Regions from separate parts of the Homo sapiens genome. Here region 1 is linked to region 2. The links come from fine-mapping of genetic effects on gene expression. A gene starts in region 2. The other region holds a variant in brackets. All regions are shown on one strand. Distances are from middle to middle.

The links.
Region 1: its variant is fine-mapped to the expression of SSR1 in anterior cingulate cortex (GTEx, PIP 0.95).

The regions. Positions count from the first base shown.
Region 1 is chr6:7,277,743-7,286,227 of GRCh38, forward strand. SSR1 (signal sequence receptor subunit 1) reads right to left here. Exons shown (of 8, transcript NM_003144.5): 8 at 3,401-8,485. Among named protein-coding and RNA genes, the nearest start is that of SSR1, 31 kb to the right of the region's middle. RefSeq lists a silencer at 4,000-4,200. The variant C/T (reference allele first, on the strand shown) is at 4,194.
Region 2 is chr6:7,308,551-7,317,908 of GRCh38, forward strand. It overlaps SSR1 (signal sequence receptor subunit 1), which reads right to left and starts at 4,649. Exons shown (of 8, transcript NM_003144.5): 1 at 4,492-4,649; 2 at 1,367-1,479. The coding sequence starts at 4,570. RefSeq lists enhancers at 3,813-4,681, 4,682-5,548, 4,885-4,954, 4,965-5,024 and silencers at 4,105-4,154, 4,285-4,394.

The DNA of each region.
Region 1 (8,485 bases), 31 kb before region 2:
ATTTGGTAACTTTGTCATTATGCGTTTAAGGAGAAAATAGTTAAGATTACAATTCACTCAATTTAGGAACCAACTTTTTATTTTGAAGCTACAGCTGTGATCTATTGTTTCACTTCCCTTTATGGAACTCACCTAATGGAATTTCACAGAAACCATCTATAGCAACGCCTATGCACTTGCTTGCCAGTTTCTGTTAAGTTTTTGTTTTAGTAAATGCTTCCTGGTTTGAGCTGCAATGTACAACCAAGATGCCATTTCCACTTCTCAAGGTGGAGCAGTCTGATCCATAACCCTGCAAGTTCCCAGCCAGAGATGCACGCATTTGTGAACAGGACACACAAACCTGTGTCCAGCTCTGCCACTTAACGGTTGTGGAATTTCTGGCAAGTTAATTTAACCTGTGTTCAATTTCCTTATTTGCAAAATGGAGATACACCTACTTCACAGTGTGATAAATAATTCACATGAAACACCTACCACGTGTGTCAGGTCCTGTTTTAAGACTTGGTGAGCTGGTGACAAAATTCTTGCTGTCATAAGCTTACATTCACAAGGGGTGATGGGCAATGGAAGGACAAGGTAACTTCTGTGTGTGTGTGTGTGTGTGTGTGTGTGTGTGAGAGAGAGAGAGAGAGAGAGAGAGAGAGTCTGTCTCGCTCTGTCGCCCAGGCTGAGAGACAGAGAGACTTGCTCTGTCGCCCAGGCTGCAGTGCAGTGGCATGATCTCGGCTCACTGCAACCTCTGCCTCCCGGGTTCAAGTGATTCTCCTGCCTCAGCTTTCCAAGTAGCTGGGATTACAGGTGCGCGCCACACCTGGCTAATTTTTGTATTTTTAGTAGACACAGGGTTTCACCATGTTGGCCAGGTTGGTCTCGAACTCCTGACCTCAAGTGATCTGCCCACCTCAGCCTCCCAAAGTGCTGGGATTACAGGTGTGAGCCACTGCGGCCAGCCCAAGGTAACTTCTGATAGTGGTGAAGATAATGAGAACAGAGCAGGGTGTGTGGGGCCTTCCATGAGGGGAGTTTTCAGGAAGACTAAGAGCAGGGAAGATGGGGGCTGAGACCTGGGCAGAGGGGATTACTGCCAAGGCCCTGATCCTGGACAAGCCTGGCAGGGTAGAAGATGAGGAGGTGGCTGGCCAGGAAGCCTGGAGGGCAGCACAGGAAGGGGCAAGGCAGGGAGGGCGAGATACTGGAGAGCCCTGCAGGCAGTGGTGGAGCACTTGTGCTCACCTAGATGCCAGTGGAAGCCAGAGGAGAGTTTCCAGAAGAGAAGAGTCAGGATCTGATAGAGTGGCTTGGACTCTTGTGGGCATAAAGCCCGAGAGGCAAGGGGGTGGGGCAGGAGTGGCTGCACTGAGCACTGGCCTGGCACCAACTCGGCAGCAGAGAGGAGCTCATGTTTTTACAAACAGCAAAGAGAAAGGCTGAGTCCCTGAAAAGGAGAAATACTTTCAAGGGTTTTCTATTAAGAATCTATCTTGGGGCCGGGTGCGGTGGCTCACGCCTGTAATCCCAGCACTTTGGGGGGCCAAGGTGGGTGGATCACGAGGTCAGGAGATCGAGACCATCCTGGCTAACACGGTGAAACCCCGTCTCTACTAAAAATACAAAAAATTAGGCGGGTGTGGTGGCGGGCACCTGTAGTCCCAGCTACTCGGGAGGCTGAGACAGGAGAATGGGGTGAACCCGGGAGGCGGAGCTTGCAGTGAACCGAGATCACGCCACTGCACTCCAGCCTGGATGACAGAGCAAGACTCTGTGTCAAAAAAACAAAAACAAAAAAAGACTCTTATCTTGGGCTGGGCGCGGTGGCTCACACCTGTAATCCCAGCACTTTGGGAGGCCTAGGCAGGTGGATCATCTGAGGTTGGGAGTTCAAAACCAGCCTGACCAACATGGTGAAACCCCGTCTCTATTAAAAATACAAAAATTAGCTGGGCGTGGTGGCACATTCCTGTAATACCAGCTACTAAGGAAGCTGAGGCAGAATAATCGCTTGAACCCGGGAGGCGGAGGTTGCAGTGAGCCAAGATTGCGCCATTGCACTCCAGCTGCGCAACAGAGTGAGACACCGTTTAAAAAAAAAAAAAAAAGAATATCTTGATTTTCTTTCACTATGTAGTGACAATGCATCCAAGTTTTAAAAAGTGGCTCCGTTTCTTTTGGGGCCACAAATAAGCTATCCACAACCACTGGATTTATTATACTCATTGTAGGAGGCTCAGATAAATTTCACATTTGCATTTATTGCTTCCATTATAAAATATAGGCTCATTACAAACATTCTGAAGAAGAAAAAAAAAGTCCACTATCCTAACCAAAAACGGCTTTAGCATTTTGGTGTATTTCTCTTCAGACTTTGGATTAATCCAAAGTTTAATACTGAATGTTTCAAGCATTGCAGAGAAGACGTAATGCTGGTTCTTACTGCCCTAATATATTTTTTCCTAACTCCCCAAGCTTGTTATGCTCTAGTATTTTTTATTCTTCAAAGCATTTTTTCCTCTCAGCAGAAAAAGCTAAAAACATTATTATCTGGTAACAAAGACTGATTCTCCAGAGTTTGCACAGCCTCTAATTAAAAGTTACTTTTTCTATGAAGAACACTTTAATTCTACTGCTTAGAATACAATCTTGAAGGGAAAGAAATCTTAGGTGCTACTGACTTACTGGCTGGGTATACAGATGAGAAAATTACATCAAAGATCCATCTCGGCTTCCTTAGAAATGTTTAATAAGCGATCAGAGTATGCAGTCTGTGCAATTATTGGGAATGGAAAGTCAGTATGGGAGTGTGGATGGGGTAGACCTTACTTACTCATATACCTGCGTGAGGGGGAGTGTCTTTATGATCATCATCTGAAAAGCCAACTAGCTGACAGCCCAAGAGTGCCTGTAAAACCAATCTTAAATCACCTTTATTCTAAAACATCACTGAAATGTCTAAAAATGTGTGAACTTTTTTTTTTTTGAGACGGAAGCACCCAGGCTGAAGTGCAGTGGCGTGATCTCAGCTTACTGCAACCTCTGCCTCCCGGGTTCAAGTGATTCTCCTGCCTCAGCCTCATGAGTAGCTGGGATTACAGGCGCGTGCCACCACGCCCAGCTAATTTTTGTATTTTTAGTAGAGACGAGGTTTCACCATATTGGTCAAGGTAGTCTTGAACTCCTGACCTTGTGATCCATCCACCTCAGCCTCCCAAAGTGCTGGGATTACAGGCGTGAGCCACCGTGCCCGGCCAAACTTTTAAATAATTTCCAGGAGGACATTCCGATCAAAATTGTGATTTTTTTTCTTTTCTTTTTTTGCTTCTATTTTGGATTCCTCGTGCGTCTTGAGACCAAGCAGGAATATGCACTGGTACTTTAGAAAACATTTCATGTTGCACACAAATACTTTCATGATCAGCTTTAATTTAAGGGACATGTAAATAAAAAGATGCATTTGACAGGACAGCAGACTAGTTCAAGCAGGAGGTTAGACCAGTAACAACAACCAAGAAAGCAAAGTGCTCGTTTCCATCTTGGCTTTACCACACTTACAAACTGATACCCAAATAACAGAAATGTTTCTCAAAGCTGCACAAGAATTTTAAGGATTCATGACCCCACTTTCATTAAATAGTCCCAGAAGATAGCTAAATAACATTTTCAGATAGAACCTCACACTGCATAAGTTTCATAACAAACAAACCTAAGATATGCTGACAGAAATCACATTGAGTTTGCAAGCACTCAAATAGAAAACCCAAGACCTCCGGCAACAAATTAGAAAATATGAACAGAAATATTTTAAACCACAAGTATTTCATCCCAACTAAATTCCAATTTCTTCAATGTTCTCTGAGTTGTTAGATTTCAAAGTGAAGAGAACTGAAATCTCTTTTTATTCATAGCAGAGCCAAAACTGGAAGTCACTTATTAAATACCTGTGTACAAAACACCATACTTGGGGCTATATGCGATTTCAGGTTGGATAAACGAGTCATGTTGAATGACAAAAAGTTAGACTGGGGAGATTTATGGAGAGAAGCAAGCACCTGTGATTTGTTGGTTTGGCGTTACAATAAACACTGTAAGTGAAAATGAGTCACAGGCAGTTAGAATGGCGTTAAGGAAACCATTTAGGTCTAAAAATCAGGACTGAAGTGATCAACAGTTAACAGATGAAGCCATGAGAACTGGCA[C/T]GCTCTGGAAAGGCTGGTGCAGAGAGCAGGACGGTGAGCCTGAGTGAGCCTGGAGTTAGTCAACAGATTCCTCAACAGAAAAGGAGTGAGGAGCAGGGTCAAAGAAATGAAGGTGAATTTGGGGGGTGGTGGTCAATGGGTTAAACGTACAAGTTGAGGCCGAGGAACTGAGGCTGAAGAAGGTTCTGGCAAGTGGAGAACCATGAGATCCTGACAGAGCAGGCTTTTGTGGGCAGAAGCCATATTAGAAGAAGAGCTAAAGGAAAGCTGAAAACCTGGCGACGAAAAGGAAGCCAAGAACATAGGAGATATTTTGACAAAACGGAAAAACAACAGAACAGGAAGTGAGGCAGGAGAACCACAGAGATGGAAGCCAGGAGGTGTCCAATTAGACGGGCACAAGAGAAAAACAGCCAGAGACCGAGAAAACGGCGGGAAGGAAAGGTTCCATCTGGAGAAAAAAGCCTCTCAAGACTGGAAGGGACAGGAGCTGGTGACCATGAAGCAGTTCAGACTCAGCTCTGAGCCCCTTGTGTGGACCACAAGCAGCACTGCAAAGTCCTCGCTGTAGAGAGAAGACCATAGATGCACACAGACGGGGTTATCCCTTGAAACCAGATCCGGGAAGCCATCAGTCAAAAAGCCTGTGTGGTCACAGATGCTTACTGGTGGTTCCTGAAATGAGTATTTCTAGGCAGGGGGCTTCAGTATAAACCAGATGTGTGCTAGCTGGGTGGACTTCAAGTAAGGAGTCAAGACAAAACACTTAGAGTGACCTTTTGGCCACTGCTGTGTCTGCAGGCTCAGCCTCCTCTAGATCTGATTCCCACAGTGGAGGGACAAAGGGCCAGCAGCTTGTAGGACCAAATGAGAAAAATACATAATCATTATGTTTTAGCCAGAAAAAGGCAACTTGATTATGAACTGGATGACATATCAAATGCAAGGCCTTAAAATGCATTCACTCTAATAAACTGCTCTGTAGAATTCAAGGGAATGAAATCCGCTTCTCATACGTACCAAGGACCAACTGCTTTGAATCTTCCACTGTGGATGATGGCAACTGGTCCTTTTAGGAGAGCCATTTTCCAGACAGTCTTGTCTTTATTTATTTATTTTTTAATTGTTAGTAGCTTTTACTTATTATTTATGTACTTATTTTTTGAGACAGTCTCACTCTGTCACCCAGGCTGGAGTGCAGTGGTGCAACCTTGACTCACTACAACCTCCTCCTCCTGGGTTCAAGTGATTCTCCTGCCTCAGCCTCATGAGTAGCTGGGATTACAGGCGTGCACCACCTCGCTCGGCTAATTGTTTTTGTTCTTTTTTGAGATGGAGTCTCGTTCTATCTCCCAGGCTGGAGTGCAGTGGCACGATCTCAGCTCACCACAATCTCCACCTCCCAGGTTTAAGCAATTCTCCTGCCTCAGCCTCCCAAGTAGCTGGGATTACAGGCATGCACCACCACACCTGGCTAATTTTTGTATTTTTAGTAGAGGCGAGGTTTCACTATGTTCGCCAGGATGGTCTTGAACTCCTGACCTCAGGTGTTCTGCCCACCTTGGCCTCCCAAAGTGTTGGGATTACAGGTGTGAGCCACCGTGCCCGGCCTTTTTGTATTTTTTAGTAGAGATGGGGTTTCACCATGTTGGCCAGGCTGGTCTTGAACTCCTGACCTAAAGTGATCCACCCACCTCAGCCTCCCAAAGTGCTGGAATTACAGGAGTGAGCCACCATGCCCTGCCCAGTCTTTATAAATGAAGCTTGACTCTGGACTGTGATAGCAGAAACAAATACAGGCAGTGCCTCAGAGAATACAAAATATCAAGCAAATCCTAAGTGTTGAAGCTAGAACCCAGGTGAGTGCACTCTGCATTACTGAGAATGTGCTCCCTGCCAAAAGGCTCCTACCCTATTCCAACCAAGCCGGAAATGGCAACAGACCAAACGTGAGGAGTGAGTGCCTCTGTGCTCCTTGAGGCTGTTTCATTACAGATAACAAGGTTACCTAGGGCAGTTGTGAAGATGAAATGAGGATGTGTGTGGAAGGGCAGAGCAGATGCTTGATGTTCTCCATCTGAACACTACTCTTGACCACAGTATTTCTCATTCTCCTTTCTGAAATGCCTCTAGGCCTTAAGCGCCTATTTCTATAAATGTTGGGTGATCAGACCAATATGGTTTCTGAAAAAACTGTTCAGAAATAGACTAATTTTCTTTGGGTGGTTCAGTCTGATGCTGAAATAAATTGCAAGATGATTTTCAAAAATAACATGAACCCCAACAGCTTCACTGAGAAATATGGAGCCTCTTCAAACGTGTTTTTAAAAAGAACTGGATGTGCAGGTGTAAGAGATTTATTACAAAACAAAAACTCCCCTTGCCAGCCTTATTACTCTGGCTCATCATTAAAATCCAGTGCTAGCCATATTACATGCCCATCTTAAAACTTTTATCCTTTAGTTACAAAAAGAATACTATGTAGCTTACATATTCAGAATTTACCTACTACCCCACCACATCAAAGTCCATAAGGTACCATATACTCTTCCCCGCCCCATGCTTCATGGGATGTTATTACAGTATGGTGCTTTACAGCGAAAATGAGAGCAGTCACTTAAGCGGCTTACTGAGACCCAGGCAATGTTCTAAGCAGCTACACACAGTAACTCCTAACAACCTTAGGAGGCAGGAACCAAAAGCTGAAGCATCATACAACTTGCCTCCAACTAAGAGGGGATCTGGGGTTCAAACCCAGGCAGCCTGACATGAGCGTTTCCTTTTTTTTTTTTTCTCTTTTGCTAAGTAAAAAGTAGGTTTAAGGGAAGAATCATTTATAGTAACACTGAATTAAGTAAGGGTTTGTAGGTCACAGAATCAGACTATTTAGGGCTGATACTTCAAGCATATCTCAATTAACAAAAAAGCACATTGAGACTCCAAGGATGAACTGCCTTTGCTTAGTGGCCAGGGCACTGTCAAGACCCAGAGGTCTCCTAATTCCCACGCTAGCACACCATACCACCCCTTTGTTCAACCTCACAGAATTGCCAATACTAGCGTATCACCAGGAATACTTACGAACCATACTAACTCACATGGAAGAATGGCAAATGAAAACTGGCCCACATTTTCTTGTTCCTTCTTCAAAGAGTAATAGGGTTCTACCTAATTGTGAACTAGAAGCTGGGGATGAAAAACAAGCCAGATACAGAGCTCACAGTCCAGAAGGAGATGTCAACAAGATGACAGGCTGCCATGGGTACTGACAGAAGTCTACATAAGGGACAGCAGGGGAACAAAAAAAGGCACAGTCAAAACATCTTTGACTGCAATTTGGAGACTTTAAACAAGGATTATCCTTTCTACAGGCATACTGAATTTTCTTTTTAATGCCTCACTGTGCCTATTAAGCAAAATCCGTAATACAACACACCAGACAGAAGCCTTACCCTGTGAGCCGGGCGCAGTGGCTCACGCCTGTAAGCCTGACACTTTGTGAGGCCAAGGTGGGTGAATCACTTGAGCTCAGGAGTTCGAGACCAGCCTGGCAACATGGTGAAACCCCGTCTCTACCAAAAACAAAACAAAAACATTAGCCAGGCCTGTGGTGTGCGCCTGTGGTCCCAAATACTTGGAAAGCTGAAGCAGGAGAATCGCTTGAGCCCAAGAGGCAGAGGCTGCCGTGAGCTGAGATCATGCCACTGCATTCCAGCCTGGGCAATACAGTGAGACCCCATGTCAAAAAAAAAAAGAAAAAGAAAAAGAAAAAAGATAAAAGCAGCTTTACCCTGTAATCTTAGTTCTAGTACTATCTGGTTCTGTAACCCAAGAGCAGATACTTCACTCTTACCTTTAACGTGAAGATTTATCTTTCAATCCTTTAGAGCTTGAAAATGCAATCAACCCATGAAAATGTTTTTAAAGACCATGATTCTGTTCATCAAGGAGACATTTAAAGGTATGTCATTAACAGAAATTTAAAAGGGTATTGTGGGTAACTGAATTATCATAGATACAATACAGCAAGTATATATGGTATATTCATTACTGAGATGATTTGAACTTTCCATATTCAATATGGAACCTTGAGCAAGCTACTTAAATTCAGGTTTTGTCTATTCCATCTACAAAATGGGAACAGTATCACCTTCCTTCAGTGAGCTGTCGTAAAGGTGTGTGATATGATGACTAGAAAACAAACAGAACACAGCACGTGATTGATGTTTAATAAATGAGTTCCCTTCCCCCTTTCTTAAACTGCAGCAAAGTGGTACCCAAACCTAAGAGCT
Region 2 (9,358 bases):
AAAATTAACTAGATGCATGCTGCAATGATCCCAATTCCAGCCCAATATTCTTACTGTTGTATTACATAGTAAACATTTCAGAGCTGAACAACTTTTAAGAGATCTTCTCTAACCCCCTTATTCTTCACCAGATATATTTTACATACTGTTTGTTGTCTGCTTCTCACCCCCTGCCATTAAAACACATATAACTGCCCCAAAAAAAAGTCTGAAAGAGCAGAGAAAATATCTGGTTTGCCCACCCAGCACCAAGAACAGTGCCTGGCACATAAGGATTCAGAAATACAACAAGCAAGCAAAAAGAATAAAAACAGAGTAAAAGCAAGCAAGCGAAAAAGAAACTGAGACCCACAGAGATAAGTCAGAAAAGGAAGCAGCAGGTATTCCAAATCTATGAAACCATGAGGTCCAGTGCTATTTCTACTATGTTGTTACCCTTCTAGACTCATGTCACCACGATCCTGAATTGTTAACTATTTCATGTCTCCTTCCCTGTTCCAGAAAATACTTATGCTCTGTTCTCAATGACTGGTGCCTATTCTCCCAACTTCAATTCACTTTGATCACATTAACAAACCTCTAAAAGTTGGGATTTTAAATTTTTGTATAAGGATAAGCTCTAGGCCAGGTGTGGTGGCTCATGCCCATAATCCCAGTGCCTTCAGAGTCCGAGGCATGAGGATCATCACTTGAGCCCAGAAGTTTTAGACTAGCCTGGGCAACATAGCAAGACCCTGTCTCTACAAAAAAAAATTACAAAAATTAGCCGGGCTTGTTGGGGCATGACGGTAGTCCTAGCTACTCAGGAGGCTGAGGCAAGAGGATCACTTGAGCCCAGGAGTTCGAGGCTGCAGTGAGCTATGCTCGTGCCACTGCACTCCAGCCTGGGGAACAGAGCAAGTCTCTGTCTCTAAAAATAAATAAGTAAGGATAAATTCTAGATGTACTATTGATAACGGTTTTGCTGTGTCCCCAACCAAATCTCATCTTGAAGTGTAGTTCCCATAATCTGCACATCGTGGGAGGAACCTGGTGGGAGGTAAATGAATCACGGGGACGGTTACCTCCATGCTGTTCTCGTGAAAGTGAGTTCTCACAAGATCTGATGGTTTTTATAAGGGGCTTTCCCCACCCTTTGCTCTGCACTTCTCCTTGCTGTCACCTTGTGAAGAAGGACATGTTTGCTTCAATTTCTGCCATGATGGTAAGTTTCCTGAGGCCTCCCCAGTCATGCTGAACTGTGGGTCAATGAAACCTTTTTCCTTTATAAATTACCCAGTCTTGGGTATGTCTTTATTAGCAGCATGAGAACAGATGAATACAATTACATACATTTTACATATATTAAATAGTATGTAACACTAACCAAATCTGTGGGTTCATCTTCTTCTACCTCGGCTTCATCATCTTCATCCTCAATTATGGAATCTTCTACTGTTTCTTCATCCTCTGTAAGATCTTGTGCCACTGCTAACAAGCCTAATGATAAAATACAGAAAAAGCAGTTACCCTTTACTCTGAAATACTAATTTCTTTTTTTAACATCAGGTATAGGCAAAAAAAACTTCCCTTGGACTAACAGAATCTCCCAGTTCACCTGAATGATGCCAATTACAATGCACCGAAGAATATTTATATTTTAGTTTACTAGTAGTCTTAACAACTGCATATCAATTTTTTTTTTTTTTTTTTAAGAGTCAGGGTCTTGCTCTGATGCCTAGGTTGGGAGTACAGTTGTGCAGTCATAGCTCACTGCAGCCTCAAACTCCTGGGCCCAAGTGATCCTTCCACCTCAGCTTCCTGGGTAGCTAGGACTAGAGGCGTGAACCACTGTTCCCTGCCTTCCATGTTATTTTTAATGGGAAATGTGGTTTAACTTCAAAAAGTGCCCAACAGATGGAAAAATGAATGGCACAAACTAAAGATGCCTTGAAGCACAAAGAACTTCAAGCAACTTTGTTAAGCAAATTAAGGAAAATAATTTTTTGCAAAGATAAGAAACTTCTAAATGTAATCCCTGTCATTAACCATACAAAGCAAACTAAACAACCCCCACGTTTAAAAGAAAACAGCATTCTTGGCCGGCGCGGTGGCTCACGCCTGTAATCCCAGCACTTTAGAAGGCTGAGGAGGGTGAATTACTTGAGGCCAGGAGTTCAAGACCAGCCTGGCCAATACAGAGAAACCCCGCCTCTACTGAAAATGCAAAAATTAGCTGGGTGTGGTGGCACACACCTGTGGTTCCAGCTACTCCAGAGGCTGAGGCAGGAGAATCGCTTGAACCCAGGAGGCAGAAGTTGCAGTGAGCCAAGATTGTACCACTGCACTCCAGCCTGGGCGACACAGCAAGACACCGTCTCAAAAAAATAAAAATAAAAAAATAAAGCATTCTTAAGTTCTAATGTTCTATGTAGGAAACACTGTTATCAGAGGTGACTACAGCTGAAACTCTTAGAACTGGATAGTTTGTAAGCCAAGGAACAAATATCTGTAATCATATCCATGGTAAAAACTGGCTTGCATGAAAAACATTGTTTAGTAAAAACTGTATTGGTAGCTTCAGGTTTGATAGCAAAGAAAGAATCCAATTATTTTTGCATGTGGCTTCAAACATGTTTTAAGATATTTTTTCTCAAACTTAGTGTTACAAAGTACAGGTATAATGCAAAAAAAAGGTGAATCACAGTTTTATAGACAATAGTACTCTAAGTAAGTCACATTATATCTATTTCAGGCAAGACCATAAAAAGAATTTCAAAGTTCTAGTGTCTTCCAACATCTCTCAGAAAAAATGATGATGTGGCAATTCTGTGGATAAAAAACATGGGAAGGGAAGCGTGTTTTCACCCAGGAGAAACAGTTAAGGACCATGCATTTGCAGTCTTTTCCATGTCTTTAAGTTCTCACTGGCTGCTAAGATTTATTGCAAAATATTAAAGAACACTGAACCATGCATTATGAACTAAAGAGATTTCACTGCCTGCTGAACAAAGCCTAAAATAGTGCATTCATAACTTACAAGTCCTTTTCAAAAACCAGTAAGAAAAATACCATGTCTGATATAGTAATTTAAAGTCGTGGTTAAATTTGAGCACTTTGGAATATAAAGGCCTTTCATAAATATTAAACAATTTTATTATTTTAATGTTAACCAATAACAATTTTGTCCCCATGAAGTCTAACAGTCTTCATTCAACTGGAAAAACCAAACACAAAAACCGTTTCTCACAAAAAATGTTTACAAGATATTAATTCAGTTTAGATAATGAATTCATGCTTCTTGAAAGTTTTTATAACTTGAAAATAGTTATAAATAGTTCTAAAACTAAAACTACATTTGTCAAGTTTTCTTTTAAAAAGCTTAAAGAGTACCAGCAAACGACTCCTAAAGTAAAAAATCTTGTTAAACCTGCAGATTAACTCATTAACAGTTGTTTAATTCTCCCACTTGGTTTTCTAGCCATTAAACAGAAGCCAGTCACTTCACTTTTCATCGCAAAACAACTCGTGAATACCTGTCACTACCGTTAAGACACACAGCTTGCTTAAACTTACAGAATGAAAGGGATGCTTAGTCAGACTAATTATTTCACTTTACAAATTAGAAAGTCGAAGTTCACGACAAAACCTGTGCAGGAAGTCAAGTTGCCATATTTTTATATTCTGCTAAGTTATTTTCACACTTAATTGCTGGGTTAATTGTTGAAAGAATAAATCTATGTATTAAAAACACTCGAAGTAGGCCACATTTTTTCAGCACAATACGATGTTTCCACAAACAAAAAATTGTTCCATGGAAAGACAAGAAGAGGAAGAAGGCAGAAGGGAGACATCCCACAGGGATTCTTCAGTCTGCTTGGCAGCAGGGGCGGATAACGGGGGTGACGATGGGGTAGTTTTTCTGAAATCAAGCCTCCTAGTAACACATACGGGTCAAGCAGGGCGTGAACAAGGCAGATGACCATTGAACAAGACACTCTGATGGCTTAGATGTGTAGAAAACAAGGGTTTTGGCAAATGAATGAAGACGGACTCCCGGCGTGGAAGCTAAAGACACGTCAGCCCTGAGCGCGAGGGGCTGGGGGTGGAGCGGAGCCGGAGGTGGCCAAAAGAAACAGCCCGGCTGCGGCGCGCTCGGAGCGCAGCCGTGTCCAGCGCCTCCTCCTGCAGCCGAGGACCCTCCAGTTCTGGCCGCTCCTGCAGGCGAGGGTCCAGGGCAAGAGGAGCAAGCCCAGCCCTCGGCCGGCCACGAAGCAAGGTCGCCCGGGCACGGCCCCGCGCTCCGCGTGCAAGGGGCAGGCCGCAGCGGGGTCTCCAGCGCCCGCGGGGACCCCTGCTGCTACGAGCCTAGGCTTGGGGAGAGGGCGGAGAGAGGCCAGCGGGGTGGACGCGGACCCCAGGACCCGGAGCGGCCACCGCCTCCAACTTCAAACTTGCCATCACTGGCATCTCCTTCCTGGCCATCCCCTCCGCACACTCCCCCAGCCTCACCTCTGGGGCCGCCTCGGAACAAGACAGTGGCAGGGAACACGAGTAAGAGAAGCAGCAGCAAGCGGGGGAGGAGTCTCATGGCGCTGCCGGTCCAGTGTCCAGTTTCCGTCGGCTAAGGCTCTCGGCGGCTCCGGCGGTAATGGCGTTACTCTTCATCCGGGCTCCGGGCAGCGAGGGGCGGGACACGTACCGCGCACGGGCCTTTGCCACGCCCCTCCCTGGACCAGGGACCGCCGCCGACGTGGCTGCTCAGCGCGGAGAGGTGGGGAGAGCAGGCCACCGGGAAGTCACGTGGCCGGCTGCTGCCTCTTTGTGGCTCCCGCGAGAGTCCGCCTTCCGCCGCAGTTGCGACCCGGCAGCTTGCGGTTAGCCGTTCTTTCCGCCCAGTTCTTTACTTCCAATTAATTAGCATTGTCAGTGGTTACTTTATTTGAATGACGATCCTCTTGATAACGGCGATGTAAGGAACATGAGCTGCCTTTATGTGGCACTTAAAAGCAAAAAATTTTGTTGGAAGAGAGGACATTGTTCAAAGGAAAAACCATGAAAATACACAGTGGAAAATCTTTGTCCCCTGTCTGCCCACACCCTCTCCCATGGTTAAGTAATGACAATTCTTAAATTATTATTTTTGAGACGAAGTCTTGCTCTGTCGCCCAGGCCAGAGTTCAGTGGCACCATCTCTGTTCACCGCAACCTCCGCCTCCCGGGTTCAAGCGATTCTCCCGCCTCAGCCTCCTAAGCAGCTGGGACTACAGGCGCGCACCACTACGCCCGGCTAATTTTTGTATTTTTACTGGAGACGGGGGTTTCACCATGTTGGCCAGACTAATCTCAAACTCCTGACCTCAGGTGATCCACCCGCCTGGGTCTCTCAAAGTGCTGGGATTACAGGTGTGAGCCACTGCGCCTGGCCAGCAATTCTTAAATTCGTATGTGACATTCCAGAATTATAAGTCACCTAAACAGTGTTTTGGTATGTAGTCAGCATTTGTAACTATACAATAGGTGCAGCAATGGCTGTCCAGTTTTCTTTAGTTTCCTTTTCATCTATTTTGGATTTGAGTTGCTGGAGTAATATAGCAGTTCATGAAATTAATCTGAATATTAAGTAATCTTGGTCTGGACCAGAGTGAGATGTCATAAAGATGAGGAAATAAATCATATGCTTACTATTGTCAATCACCTCCTTAGAGCTGTGCTTTTTCATTTAATTTTCTAAACCTCTCTATGAGCTGGATATTATTTACTGAGGAGAAAACAGACCCAGAGAGGTTAGTAATTTACTCAAAGCTTCAAAACGCTAGCAAACGGCAGATGCAAGATTTGAACAAGGCTATCTGGTTCCAGATTCCATACACTACTGACCTAGGACATTTGCTGTTCTACTCCTGCATTGTTTCCGCTTCAGGTCTCCTTGTCCTGGGGGCTGTAAATGCAGCTTGGACCCACTGCCACCACTACCTACAGTCTGCTAAAGTCACAGCCTGATGGTGCTGGGCTGAATCAACCAAATTCCACTCTGCCAGGCCACCAGTGGCACCGCTGCTGTGTTGCTGCTGCTACTAGGGCGCCCAGCATAAGTGGAGGGCCTCCTCTCACTTTGCTGCTGCCTCTGCTCCTGTGCACGCTACCAGTGTTGCCACTCTATGTCAGAGCTGTGTCTGGAATAGGGTTCTTGGTCTCACTGACTTTAAGACTGAAACCGCAGACCCTCGTGCTGAGTGTTACAGTTCTTAAAGTCCAGAGTTTGTTCCTTCATCATGTTCGGATGTGTTCCGAGTTTCTTCCTTCTGGTGGGTTCATGGTCTCACTGGCTCAGGAGTGAAGCTACTAGACCATCGCAGTGAGTGTTACAGCTGTTAAGGTGTCCATTCCTCCTGGTGGGTTCATAGTCTCGGTGGCTTTAGGAGTGAAGCTGCAGACCTTCGCGGTGAGTGTTACAGCTCATAAAGGCAGTGAGCAGCAGCAAGATTTATTGCAAAAAACAAAGCTTCTGAGAGGTGACAGCATGCTGGCAGTACTCAGCCCTCGCTCGCTCTCGGCGCCTCCTCTGCCTGGGCCCCCACTTTGGTGGCACTTGAGGAGCTCTTCAGCCCACCGCTGCACTGTGGGAGCCCCTTTCTGGGCTGGCCAAGGCCGGAGCCAGCTCCCTCAGCTTGCCGGGAAGGTGTGGAGAGAGGCGTGGGCGGGCGGGAACTGGGGTTACGCGCGGTGCTTGCCAGCCAGTGCGAGTTCCGGGTGGGCGTGGGCTTGGCGGGCCCTGCAGTGGGAGCGGCCAACTGGGCCAGGCGGGGGGCAGTGAGGGGCTTAGAACCTGGGCCAGCAGCTGCTGTGCTCGATTTCTCACCGGGCCTTAGCTGCCTTCCCGCGGGGCAGGGCTCGGGACCTGCAGCCCACCATGTCTGAGCCTCCCCCAACCCCATGGGCTTCTGTGCAGCCGGAATCTCCCCGACCAGCGCCACCCCCTGCTGCACGGTGCCCAGTTCCTTCCACCACCCAAGGGCTGATCAGTACAGGTGCACAGGCATGGGACTGGCAGACAGCTCCACCTGCAGCCCCAGTACGGGTTCCACGGGGTGAAGCCAGCTGGGCTTCTGAGTCTGGTGGAGACGTGGAGAACCTTTATGTCTAGCTCAGGGATTGTAAACACACCAATCAGCACCCTGTGTCTAGCTCAGGCTTTGTGAATGCACCAATCGACACTTTGTATCTAGCTACTCTGGTGGGACCTTGGAGAACCTTTGCGTCCACGCTCTGTATCTAGCTAATCTAGTGGGGACGTGGAGAACCTTTGTGTCTAGCTCAGGGATTGTAAACGCACCAATCAGTGCCCAGTCAAAACAGGCCACTCGGCTCTACCAATCAGCAGGGTGTGGGTGGGGCCAGATAAGAATAAAAGCAGGCTGCCCTGAGCTTAGCAGCGACAACAGGCTCCAGTTTCTTTCCATGCTGGGAAAATATCTGTTCTTTTGCTCTTTAAGCTCATATTGCCTTTATGAGTTATAACACTCATTATGAAGGTCTGCAGCTTCGCTCCTGAAGCTAGGGAAATCACGAACCCGCCAGGAAGAATGAATAACTCAAGATATGCCACCTTAAGAGCTGTAACGCTCACTGTGGAGGTCTGTGGGTTTACTCTTGGGCTAGTGAGATTACAAGCCCACCAGAAGGAAGAAACTCCGGATACACTGCCTTTAAGAACTGTAGTACTCACTGTGAGGGTCTGTAGCTTCATTCTTTAAGTCAGGGAGGCTAATGAGCCCCCAATTCTGGACACTGGAGTGGGACCTGAGCAGGTTGCCACTGATTCAGGCAGCCTGCTTTTTTTTCCGTTTATTTGGCTTCACATTCTGCTGGTTGGTTTATTTTAGAGCTGATTGGTGTGTTTTCAATTGGTGAGCTAGACACAAAGTTCTCCATGTCCCCACTGGGTTAGCTATACACAGAGTGTCAATTGGTGTGTTCACAAACCCTGGGCTAGACACAGTGCTGATTGGTACATTCACAATCCCTTAGTTAGACATTCTCCAAATCCCCACCAGATTAGAGTGCCAATTGGTGCATTCACAAACCCTGAGCTAGATACAGTGTGCTGATTGGTGTGTTTATAAACCTTGAGTTAGATACAGAGTGCTGATTGGTGTGTTTATAATCCCTCAGCTAGGCAGAAAGATTCTCTAAATCTCCACTAGATTCAGGAGCCCAGCTGGTTTCACCCAGTGGATCCCACACCGGGGCTGCAGGTGGAGCTGCCTGCGAGTCCCGCGCGGTGCGCCAGCACTCCTCAGCCCTTGGGTGGTCGATGGGACTGGGCGCTGTGGAGCTGGGGGTGGCGCTCGTCGGGGAGGCTCAGGCATGGTAGGCTGCAGGTCCCGAGCCTTGCCCCACGGCGGAGCAGGTAAGGCCTAGCGAGACATAGAGCACAGCAGCTGCTGGCCCAGGTGCTAAGCCCTTCACTGCCCGGACCCGCTGGCCGCTCCGAGTGCGGGGCCCGCCAAGCCCACGCCCACCCGGAACTCGCGCTGGCCCACAAGCGCCGCGCGCAGCCCTGGTTCCCGCCCGCGCCTCTCCCTCCACACCTCCCCGCAAGCTGAGGGAGCCGCTTCTGGCCTTGGCCAGCCCAGAAAGGGGCTCCCACAGTGCAGCGGCGGGCTGAAGGGCTCCTCAAGCGCTGCTGGAGTGGGCGCCAAGGCCGAGGAGGCCCCCAGAGCGAGCAAGGACTGCCAGCACGCTGTCCCTGCTTTGAGGTGACTGTACCTTACAGAGTTCTCCACTGACTCAGCATAATCTCCCTCCCCTACTTTGAGGCACCCTTTCATGAGTTTCAAATGAGACCTGCTCTGAGCTTGTTGATGTCTGACAGGTGTTTTGACAAATACATCTTTCTGTTTAACTTGCTACTCTCTCCTAACACCAAAAACAATTGATGGGAACTGTAATAGATGGTGAAGTTACAGACTTCATGCTGTACTCAAAATCACACCTGCTCTCCATCACGGCACCACCGTGTCTTACTGGCTTGCTTTCCCCATTCAGAGGACTGATTACTGAAGGGGACGACGTCTCATTCTTTATGGTAAAGAGATTCCTAGTAGGTCTGTCTCACCGGTTCTCAGATGTTTAGACGTAGCCTGAACATGTAAGGATAATTTAGTTTAGGCTTAACCTGTGACTTCCACTCCAATGATGATGTCATCAATCGATTACTATCGGATTTTATTTGGGACTTGAATTTTACACAACCAGCTACTATTGGTACAACAGGAAAAATAAAGTGTGCCTACTCGAGATATTACTGATGTGATGAATTTAGGGAAAATAACATGTAAACAGAAAACAGAAGACCTGTGTGACTGTCCAATTA